Linked DNA regions of Homo sapiens. The protein of the gene in region 1 interacts with the protein of each later gene in a pairwise test. Each region holds a gene or a part of one and is shown on either strand. Other genes may lie near its edges.

Region 1 (2,932 bases):
TCTGCCTCCCGAGGTTCAAGTGATTCTCCCACCTCAGCCCCTGGAGTAGGTGGAACCATAGGCACACCACCCCCCCGACCCCATGCCTGGTGAATTTTTTGCATTTTTTGTAGAGATGGGGTTTTGCCATGTTGCCCAGGCTGGTCTCAAACTCCTGGCCATCTCAGCCTCCCGAAGTGCTGGGATTACAGGCCAACATGTATATATTCTGTTTGTTGTCTGTCCTCTCATATTAGATTGTAAGCTCTATGAGGGCAGGGATATTTTTAAACTACCATACTGTCCCGATGTAGGACAGTTCCTGGCACATAGTAGAGACTTAATATTATGATCAGTGAATAAAGATCTAATTGGTAGAATTTTTAGTTTGGATCTCCTTGGTATCTGTTTTTATAAGCCAGACTTCCCTTCTCCCGAACCTCAGTATTTGTCATTTAAACAAATACCACTTGGAAAAAAAATCAGCCTTATCTCGAGTCTGTTGGATAAATTATATGCACCTGAGAGACCAGCCTTGAATTTTCCAATTACCTCATACATCTAGGGAACTGCTTCCCATGAAGAAGCCTGTTGTATTATATCATCTATCCCCATGTGCCTTTTAATGAATCTGATTTCAGAATTGAGAACAAAAAGCTTACCATTTATTTCAGTTGGAGGTTTCAGTGATTGGACAACTTTATGTAGATGAAGTAACATTGCAATAAAAAATTTCCAGAAGACATCTAGGTTCTGGCTAATGTGTTAGCCTTTAAGCAATATTAATGGTAACAATTCTGTTACAAATATTTAAAGTTTGTGTGTGGGTGTTGGGGATTGGGGGTGCTGTCTCATGCATGCACTACAGTGGAGTCCAAACTCAATTTAACTGAGCTGTCTTGCCTGCTGAAAGACCTGGCAGAGTCAGTGATCAACAGAGCCCAAGACTCCAAGGTGAGGCAAAAAAAGAGTGGGAGGATTTAGGAGCTGTCCCCAGTGTAACAAAGTGCTTCAGAAATCACCTTTGAATTGTGAGCATTGAAGCGTCAACAAGATGCAGCATTATGATGTACGTTATGCCTCTGGTGTTACAGGTAAGAAAAAAGAGTCACAAATAAGAGCCTCTGTCCTCTGGGATGTTGTAACAGGATAAACACCTTGGCTGTCTTGGATAATAAACATACACATACCTGTCAGCCCACCCATACTCTAATGTCCCAAATGCAATAGTTGCTCAACTTTCCTCCAGAGAATGTATCCCTGTATGGTAGGTTTGGCTCAATGAAGAGGTGGTTCAATGAAGTGGATGCTCATTAGAAGCAGGCAGTATAGGAAGAAACATCTCACTCTGACTTGTGAGCTCTTACATATTGATTTCCATTCTTTCATCACTTCCTCAGATCTTCCCTAACTAGGTCAAATCCTGTTATAAGCCCTCCCAGCCGCACAGTCCTCTCTTGTAGCACTCAGCATCATGGCTGATTCACAGCCACACGGGGTTGACTAATGCCTGTCTCCCTTAGATGCTAAGCCTCAGGAGGACAGGATAGTTTTTCATTTTTGCTTACTTTTATATTTCCAGTGCCCAGCAGTGCCTGGCATATAAAAAGTGTTCAATATACATTTCTGAATTACTGTGTGGATAATTAAGCAAGAAAATAGTCTCATCCTTTCTGAAGTAGTCTCTACCTATTAATACATCTGGATTTAGCTATGGAATCTGGGTAAAAAGAACTCAAGATAGTAAAAACATTGTGTAGCTGCATATCTGTCGCCCCTCTTCCCTCCCTGGGAGTTAGGCTGGGTTTGCTTTTTTTTTTTTTCATATCTATCTCCATCCCCTAACTACTGACTTCTGTGGTAGTTTGTACTATAAATGACCCTGATTTCATTTGTAGTTATGAAGACATTTTAGTCTAGGTCATATGCCTAGGAATTCTGAATTTCTATTATAATTCTCTTTGTGCCTACAGATGTGCTTTTAAATTGTTCCTGCCCTTTCCTAAGTCTAGATGCTATATCACAAACAGCAGCACAATATCCCACTTTGGAAACCTAATTCTTTCAAGGTATTAGAGTTGACAGCAAAATTTCAGACAACCAGAGGCCACACTGAACACTGGTGTCTCCATGCTTATCCTATTAGTGCAGGAGAATCTGGCTTCACCTTTGAGCCCTGCTAAAAGCCATTTCATTGAGCAACAGACAATCAGAGCAAGGAAACAACTCAGTGTTCATGAATTGCCATGCTAAATCACTCACAGGATTGATAGAGAAATAAGTCACCTCCCATAAACAGAAAATTTTTTTTTTCTGTTTTTCCTTCTTTTCATTAGCAATTGTTCCAAAAACACTTACTCTGCTAATTTCTGCTAGAAAGAATCACCGTTCTTTCTCTGTGGCCCAGGCTGGAGTGCAGTGGTATGATCTCAGCTCACTGTAACCTCCGCCTCCTGGATTCAAGTGATTCTCCTGCCTCAGCCTCCCGAGTAGCTGCAATTACAGGCACCCAACATCACGCCTGGCTAACTTTTGTATTTTTAGTAGAGAGGAGGTTTTGCCATGTTGGCCAGTCTGGTCTCGAACTCTTGGCCTCAAGTGATCTGCCTGCCTCAGCCTCCCAAATGCTGGGATTACAGGTGTGAACCACTGCGCTGGGCCTGCAATGGGAGTCACTGACAAGGTTTTTAAAGGGCCCAGGACTCTGTCTAGCTGCGGCATGCACAATACTCCTATTTGATCAACATGGCTAAGGCAAAGTCAAACTACATACCTTCCATGAAGTCAATTCTGTCGAGTAAGAAATGCCTTATAAATCCGGTGCTCAGGAATGTTGCACTTTGGAGACAGATGTTCACCATCTGGTTCTCAGCTGCACCCATGCTGCTGCTGGTTCTCATATTCCCAGACCTTGTCCCACAGCAATAACACTAGCACTTGTGTGGCCCTTCAT
Region 2 (7,975 bases), about 110 Mb from region 1:
GTAATCCCAACACTTTGGGAGCCCAGGAGTTTGAGACCACCCTGGGCAACAAAGTTTGACCTCATCTCTACAAAAAAATTAAAAAGTTGGTTGGATGTGGTGGCTTGTGCTTATACTCCCAGCATTTTGGGAGGCCAAGGTGGGAGATCGCTTAAGCCCAGACTTAGAGGTTGCAGTGAGCTATGATCGAGCCACTGCACTCCAGCCTGGATAACAGAACGAGACCTTATCTCAAAAATAAATACATAAATAAGCCCGGGCGTGGTGGCTCACACCCGTAATCCCAGCACTTTGAGAGGCCAAGGCGGGAGGATTGCTTCAGTCCAGGTGTTCGAGACCAGCCTGGGCAAGGTGGTAAGATCTCATCTCTACAAAAAATTTTAAAATTAGCCAGACATGGTGGTGCATACCTGTGGTCCCAGCTACATGGGAGGCTGAGGTGGGAGAATCACTTGACCCCACGAGTTTGAGATGGCAGTGAGCAGTGTTCACACCACTGCACTCCAGCCTGGGTGACAGAGCTAGACCCAGTCTCAAAAATAAAAAATTAAAATTAAATTAAATATATAGCTAAGTGAAAATTTATTTAAAATATTGTGTAAGACTATCTTCAGGCTATGTGTGTAAGGTGTATATGAAACATAAATAAACTTCATGTTTAACTTGGGTCCCATCCCCAAATATCTCATTATGTATATGCAAACATTCCAAAACCTGAAAAAAATCAATCTGAAACATTTTTTGGTCTTAAGCATTTAGAATAAGGGATATTCATTTGTACTTTTATAATGAACCAAAGTGAAAGCTATAGAGGAAAACTGATAATGTCAAACGCTGAAAAGAGTCAAGTGTGAGGACAGAGAAGAGGCCACTAGATCCAGTAATTAGGAGTCACTGCTCAGAAACCTCAATAAAGTGAAGGAGCAAGTTGTGGGACGCGGGAACATCCAGAGGAAGAGTAATTCAGAGTGACTGAACAACGAGAACAAAGGTCCTGTGCTTGGCATGTTTGAGAAGGTCTGTGTGGCTGGGACAGGAGAGGAAAAGTAAACTAGGACAACAGAGGCCAGAATATGCAGGGCTTTTCAGACTGGGTTTTACTCTAGATGTCTGTGACTCCACTGAAAGGTTTTGAGCAGGGCTATGGCAAGCTCTGATTTCCCCCCCCTTTTTTTTAGTTATACTTTAAGTTCTGGGATACATGTGCAGAACATGCGGGTTTGTTACATAGGTATACAGGTGCCATGGTGGTTTCCTGCACCCATCAACCCGTCATCTACATTAGGTATTTTTCCTAATGCTATCCCTCCCCTAGCCCGATTTTTCCCTTTAAAAGGATGTCTTGGCCACGCCTGTAATCCCAGCACTTTGGGAGGCTGAGGCGGGCAGATCACCTGAGGTCAGGAGTTCGAGACTAGCCTGGCCAACATGGTGAAATCCCATCCCTACTAAAAATACAAAAAGTAGCCAGGCGTGATGGCATGCACTTGTAATCCCACGTACTCGGGAGGCTGAGGCAGGAGAATCACTTGAACCCAGGAGGCAGAGGTTGCAGTGAGCAGAAAAAAAAAAAAAAATTAGATGTCTCTGGCTGCTCTGTGGGGAATAGGCTTTAGGTAAAAGCAGAATCAGAGAGATCAGTTAGGAGGCTATTGTAATAGTATAAGGTAGAGATGATGGTTTGGACTAAGATGGTTACAGGGAAAGACAGTAAGAAGTACTTGGAATATATTTTGAAAGTAAAGCCAACCAGGCTGTTGACAGATGGTATACAGGAAATGAAAGACTCAGAATGATCCTTAAGGTTTTTGGCCTTAACAACAGGACGAACGGTAGTATCATTTACTGAGATACAGAACACTAAGAAAGGGCAGATTTGAAGGAAGAAAAAAATCACAAATTCCACTTGGCCATTTTAATTTGGAGATATGCTGACTAGGCAGCTGGATATATCAATCTGTACTTCAAGATAAAATCTGGACTGGAGATATAAAGTTAGCAGTCATAAATATACAGAGGCCAGTGCAGCAGCTTGCACCGGTAATCCCAGCACTTTGGGAGGCTGAGGCCCGATCGCTTGAGCCCAGGAGTTAGAGACCAGCCAGAGTAACATAGTGGAACCCCGTCTCTACAAATAATAATAATAATAATAAATTAGCCAGGTGTGGTGGTGCACACCTGTAGTCCCAGCTACTGGGGAGGCTGAGGAGGGAGGATCACTTGAGTCAGGGAGGCCGAGGGTGCAGTGAGTTATGATTGTGCCCATAAACAGCCACTGCACTCTAGCCTGGGCAACAGAGCGAGACTATGTCTCAGAAAAATAAAAATAAAATGAAATAAATACATAGATAATAGAGTATGTAGATACTACTCAAAGGTTATTACACTAAATGAGATCACATAGGAAGTATGGATAGATAAGAAAGGTGTATGAGGAAAGAGGAGGAAGGGGAGGTAAGAGAACAGTGGCACAGAGCACTTCCAACATTTACAAGTTGGTAGGAAAAGATGGGTCCGAAAAGGAGATTGTTTAGGGGCTGGTGAAGTGAAAGAAAAACAAGGAGAATGTGTAGCTCACAAATTCCTAAGTGAAGAAAATTCTCTCCCACCTTTTAACTCAGACTGCTTGCTTACATTCTGAGGTATTTGCCACACACTGCTTTTTACTGATGGTCATGAAAATGAGAAAACCGTAGGCAAAGTGCCTGTTACTGTTGCCAGACCCATGTTATCTCGTTTTAGTGTGTAAGTTCCTTGAGAACGGAAATTAACATATTATTTATGCCACCCCTTCTCAAGGACCTCTTACAATGCGAGCGTTTGAAGACCATTCCTGTGCTAACTTCACAAGCCAAAGAGGTTAAAATTCAAAGGCTACCTCCACTCTACTGAATGATCTGCGCTGAAGACGACCAGACAACTTGGGCAGCCCTACCAAGCTGCACCCTCCCACCATCCCCGGCTTCTCCCTGAGACTCCGCACCAACGTGGGTAGGGAAGGCCCCGGCAGCACCAACTAAGGAGAAACAGACGCACGCCCAGACCCAGACTGGGGAAAGAAGACTAGTTGAGTTCCACCTGGATGCCACCCGACAAAAGGGGAGTGGCACCCTGGGGCAGCGATCGGGGCCCTTGGCGAGGCCAAGCGGTGCAGAATACACACCTGGATGACTCGCTGCTTGAGTTTATTATCCACGAACCCTGCAGGTCTGGGCTTCATCGCGTCGGTCTTCCAAGCCACAGCTCGGACCGCCAGCTCCTAGTCAACCGGGGGCCTCGTAGGGGTTGCCCGCCGCGATCGCCGGGCCAGTTGCACCTGAAATGCGCCCCTCCTGGGGCCTAGCCCGCGCCGTTTCCGTCAGAATAAAAGTAATGCGAATGAAGGGGAAAAAATTCCGAGGAGAGGGAGAAGACTTGAAAACCTCAGGGAGTTTCTAGGGGCCTTATTTTGCAGGCCTGCCCAGTGGACCCTGGAAGATTAGGACCCCTTTGAACGCGCTCAACTTTATTGGTTCCCCGCCGGGCGAACCAGGTGGGAGGAAGTTCCTACCCCGGCGCGGTGTGCGGAGACGCTGTCAACGGCGTCCTCTGGAAAACTTGGTTTGCTTTCCTCAGGCGTTCCAGCCACACCTCATTCTGATACAAAGCTAGTCTTCGCAAAACCAGCCACGGTAGATACTTGGAGTGATAAAATCAGGGTAAAAACACACCACCAGCCGCTGCTTGCTTTCCCACGTAGTTATCTTACATTTTAGAGGCCCGACAAAAGGGCTAGGTGAAAAAGAAAAGGAAGGACGGATTTATCCAGATAACTAAGTCATTTGTTACTTTTAGAACTCGTTTGACTTACGCTGTTATCATCGGCAGGTAATTTGTTGAATATATCCAGTGCAGGACTCCTTGGCCCAGAATTTTATCAAACGTTTGTATTTGCCCCAAGAAGTTTATCCTGCACTTAGGGAGACACAAAGGGACAGTTACCAAGCATTAAAAAAAAAATGCTGGCTTTAGTTTCTGTCTTCTTGTTTATTTCAACCGTGTTTTGAGTATTCTTATTTCAGGTCCTCCTTGGCTTATGACAAGGTTAAGTGCAGTGTATTAAGGGGCAGAGGGGAGAGAAAATGGAATTAAGAGAAGGGCGTGAGGCCGGGCACGGTGGCTCACACCTGTAATCCCAGCACTTTGGGAGGCCGAGGCGGGCAGATCACTTGAGGTCAGGAGTTCACGACCAGCCTGGCCAACATGGTGAAACCTTGTCTCTACTAAAAATATAAAAATTAGCACTGAATTAAGTATTAGATTTCCCACTCAAAATATTGATCCGTTTGGTTGCAACTTCATTTCCTACTTCTTCACTATGTGTAGTTTTATTTTTTATTTTTTTAGTTGTAAAATATAAGAACATTCACCATCTTAAACATTTTAAAGTGTGCAGTTTAGTGATAATACATTCATAATATGCAACCATCACTGCCATCTAGTTCCAGAACTCTTTTCATCTTGTACAACTAAAACTCTATACTAATTAAAAAATAACTCCCCATTCCTCCCTCCCCCCAGCCCCTGGCAACTACCATTCTACTTACTGTCTTTATGATTTTGACTACACTAACTTCCTCATATAAGTGGAATCTTCCAGTATTTGACTTTTGTGACTGGCTTGTTTCTTAGCTTAATGCCCTCATATAGCATGTGTTAGAATTTCCTTCTTTCTTTTCTTTTTTTTTTTTTTTTTTTTTTGATACAGAGTCTTGCTCTGTTGCCCAGGCTGGAGTGCAGTGGCGCAATCTCAGCTCACTGCAACCTTCGCCTCCTGGGTTCAAGAGATTCTACCACCTCAGCCTCCCAAGTAGTTGGGACTACAGGTGTGTACCACCACACCCGGCTAATTTTTTGTATTTTTAGTAGAAATGGCGTTTTGCCATGTTGGCCAGGCTGATCTCCAACTCCTGACCTGAGGTGATCCACCTGCCTTGGCCTCCCAAAGTGCTGGGATTACAGGTATAAGCCACCGCACCTGGCCTTTCCTTCACTTTTAAGGCTGAATAAAATTTGGCTCTTTTGTTGCCATTCTGCCTTTTGCCATGGGATGACACAGCAAGAAGGCCCTCACCAAATAACAACTCCTTGATATTGGACTTTCCAGCCTTCTTGCATTCATTCAACAAGTGTTTATTGAGTGCCTACCAGTTTCAGTCTCTGCTCTGCGCTTTAGGCTTGTGGGGAAAAGTGGAAGAATTATAACTAACTTTTTATAACATTTAAAAAATTTGATTAGGTATTTATGTGCTTGATTAAATGTTAGCAAAGATTCCCTACAGCATATAGTACAAATGTAGTCAATGCTCAGTAATTTTTAAAATGAAATGTAATTCTGTGCATGCCAAATGTCCAACATAGAATGAAAACACACTGAGGCCAGGCATGGTGGCTCATGCCTATACTACCAGCACTTTGGGAGGCAGAGGCAGGTGGATCACCTGAGGTCAGGAGTTCAAGACTAGCCTGACCAATGTGGTGAAACCCTGTCTCTATTAAAAATACAAAATTATCCGGGTGTGGTGGCCCATGCCTGTAATCCTAGCTACTTGGGAGGCTGAGGCAGGAGAATCACTTGAACCTGGGAGGCAGAGGTTGCAGTGAGCTGAGATTGCGCCATTGCACTCTAGCCTGGGCAACAAGAGCAAAACTCCATCTCAAAAAAACGAACAAATAAACAACCACATTGAAAGGCCTAGTAGTATCATGACATGTACTAGGCAATATAGTTTATTAGTCTATAATTTGTCATAGAATACTATCCTACACTTAGGGTTGACTTCATGGGTATGTGACCTCTGCAGTCACACAGGGCCCTGTGCTCAGAAGGGCCCCACAGGTGGTTTAATGCTGTACTGTTGCCATCTTGAAATGCTTTCTGAATAAGCTGTCCCTTATTTTCATTTTGCACTGGGTCTTACAAATTATGTAACCAGCCATTCATATGTAAACTTGAAGTACTCTAGAATGCTGCCTTCTTCTTCTTTTTCTTCTTTTTTTTTTTAGGTGGAGTCTCACTATATTGCCAGGCTAGAGTGCAGTGGTACGATCTTGGCTCACTGTAACCTCCGCCTCCCGGGTTCAAGCGATTCTTCTGCCTCAGCCTCCCAAGTAGCTGGGACTCCAGGTGCATGCCACCATGCCCAGCTAATTTTTGTATTTTTAGTAGAGACAGGGTTTCACCATATTGGCCAGGCTCGTCTTGAACTCCTGACCTCGTGATTCGCCTGTCTCGGCCTCTCAAAGTGCTGGGATTACAGGCATGAGCCACTGCACCCAGCCACCTCCTTCTTAAAGGCAGGGAATGTGTTGTTCATCTCACTACTGCTTCAGGTGCAGAAGGCAATAATTGAAAGTGAATTAATACTAGATGATAATATGCTTGAACATTTCTCGTTGGAATTATTTCATCAATTATTGCCCTGAAGACCATTTTACATTGATTCCAATGTTTGGATTTACAATATCATGCATCAAAACCAAAAAGATTACTGAACAGTAACCTAAGTGCATATACACTTTAAGCACTTCCTTTTTTAATTGAAGCATCCTCCATTCTTTGGTGGTGTAACCCCACCTAGTGGTAGTGGCGTATTTTATCTTTTGTCTTTCACACTTTCTCCTAAACCTCATACAGTATTTCACAAGCAAACAGCTTCTGGTCTAATTGTGCTTCATAACTAGGGTGATTTATGTCCAGATTTGCTCAGGACAGTCCTGATTTTTGATTCAGCAAAATTATTGCTAGTATCCCCTTTGTGGAAATACATGAAGACCAAATACATAAGAAGAGGTGAAGACTATTTGTTCAGAGTTTGCTATAACAAGGGAGTCAGCCACCATCACTTGTGTTTTGGCAGAGCCTCAAAGACAGGCAGAGGAGTGGGAAAACTTTATGGTGGGGAATAGGGGAAGGCTTCAGGTACGCCCTAACTGAAGACTGTTGTCATAGGGAAGCTATAGGTGGGCTAAATAGAACTAGCAGAGCATCCTATGTGTTTGGTTGGGATGCACAGTTGGTTTTCTTTTTGGTCCTATGTTGACAGCAGGTCCAAAAATTAGAAAAGCTATCATTTATTAATAAAGTTTTTGCCATCTGGGGCCGTTTGTTACAGGGGTTGTTGCTGGGTTCCTGGATTGTTTGCTAGTGATAGTGATCTAACTTCCTACATGTCTGACTTGTAGATGATATATTGGTTTTCTGGTCTGGTTGCTGCAGATTGTGAGTCAGAGTTCTATTTTTGCATTTGGTCTGGCCATTTTTCATTCACATGTTCAGTGTCTTCCTTTTATCTCTCAAAAAGGTTCTAGTTTGGACAATGTATGACCACTCTATGTATAGTAGGAACATGGAGAAAAAGATGAAGTTTGCATGTCAGAGGATCCTTACTGAGATGCAAAAATGAGGCTTCCTGCTTGCTGGGAGCTGGAGACTGAGTTCTGTTCTGTTATGTTCTTTTCTTTTCTTTTTCGAGACAGGGTTATATGGTTTGGCTATGTCGCCACTCAAATCTCATCTTGAATTGTGGCTTCCATAATTCTTATGAATTGTAGGAAGGACCTAGTGGCAGATAAATGAATCATGGGGGTGGTTTCCCCCATACTGTTCTGGTGGTAGTGAATAAGTCTCATGAGATCTGATGATTTTATAAGGTGTTTCCTCTTTTGCTTGGCTCTAATTCTGTCTCATCTGCCATCATGTAAGACGTGCCTTTACTCTTCCACCATGATTGTGAGACCTCCCCAGCCACGAGGAACTATAGGTCCATTAAGTCTGTTTTTCTTTATAAATTACCCAGTCTTGGGTATGTCTTTATCAGCAGTGTGAAAATTGACTAATACAGAGCATCCCACTCTGTCGACCAGGCTAGAGTGCAGTGGCATGATTTCAGCTCACTGCAACCTCTGCTTCCCTGTTTTTTTTGTTTTTGTTTTT

The links.
Region 2: the proteins of TTF2 (region 1) and NVL interact in a two-hybrid assay, tested with the Homo sapiens proteins (one study listed by BioGRID and IntAct).

The regions. Positions count from the first base shown.
Region 1 is NC_000001.11:117,105,144-117,108,075, reverse strand, and holds the end of TTF2 (transcription termination factor 2), read right to left. Parts: 3' UTR 623-2,932; downstream 1-622. UniProt on the Homo sapiens protein: DsDNA-dependent ATPase which acts as a transcription termination factor by coupling ATP hydrolysis with removal of RNA polymerase II from the DNA template. May contribute to mitotic transcription repression. May also be involved in pre-mRNA splicing.
Region 2 is NC_000001.11:224,326,908-224,334,882, forward strand, and holds the start of NVL (nuclear valosin-containing protein-like), read right to left. Parts: upstream 3,266-7,975; 5' UTR 3,221-3,265; coding exon 3,164-3,220; intron 1-3,163. UniProt on the Homo sapiens protein: Participates in the assembly of the telomerase holoenzyme and effecting of telomerase activity via its interaction with TERT. Involved in both early and late stages of the pre-rRNA processing pathways.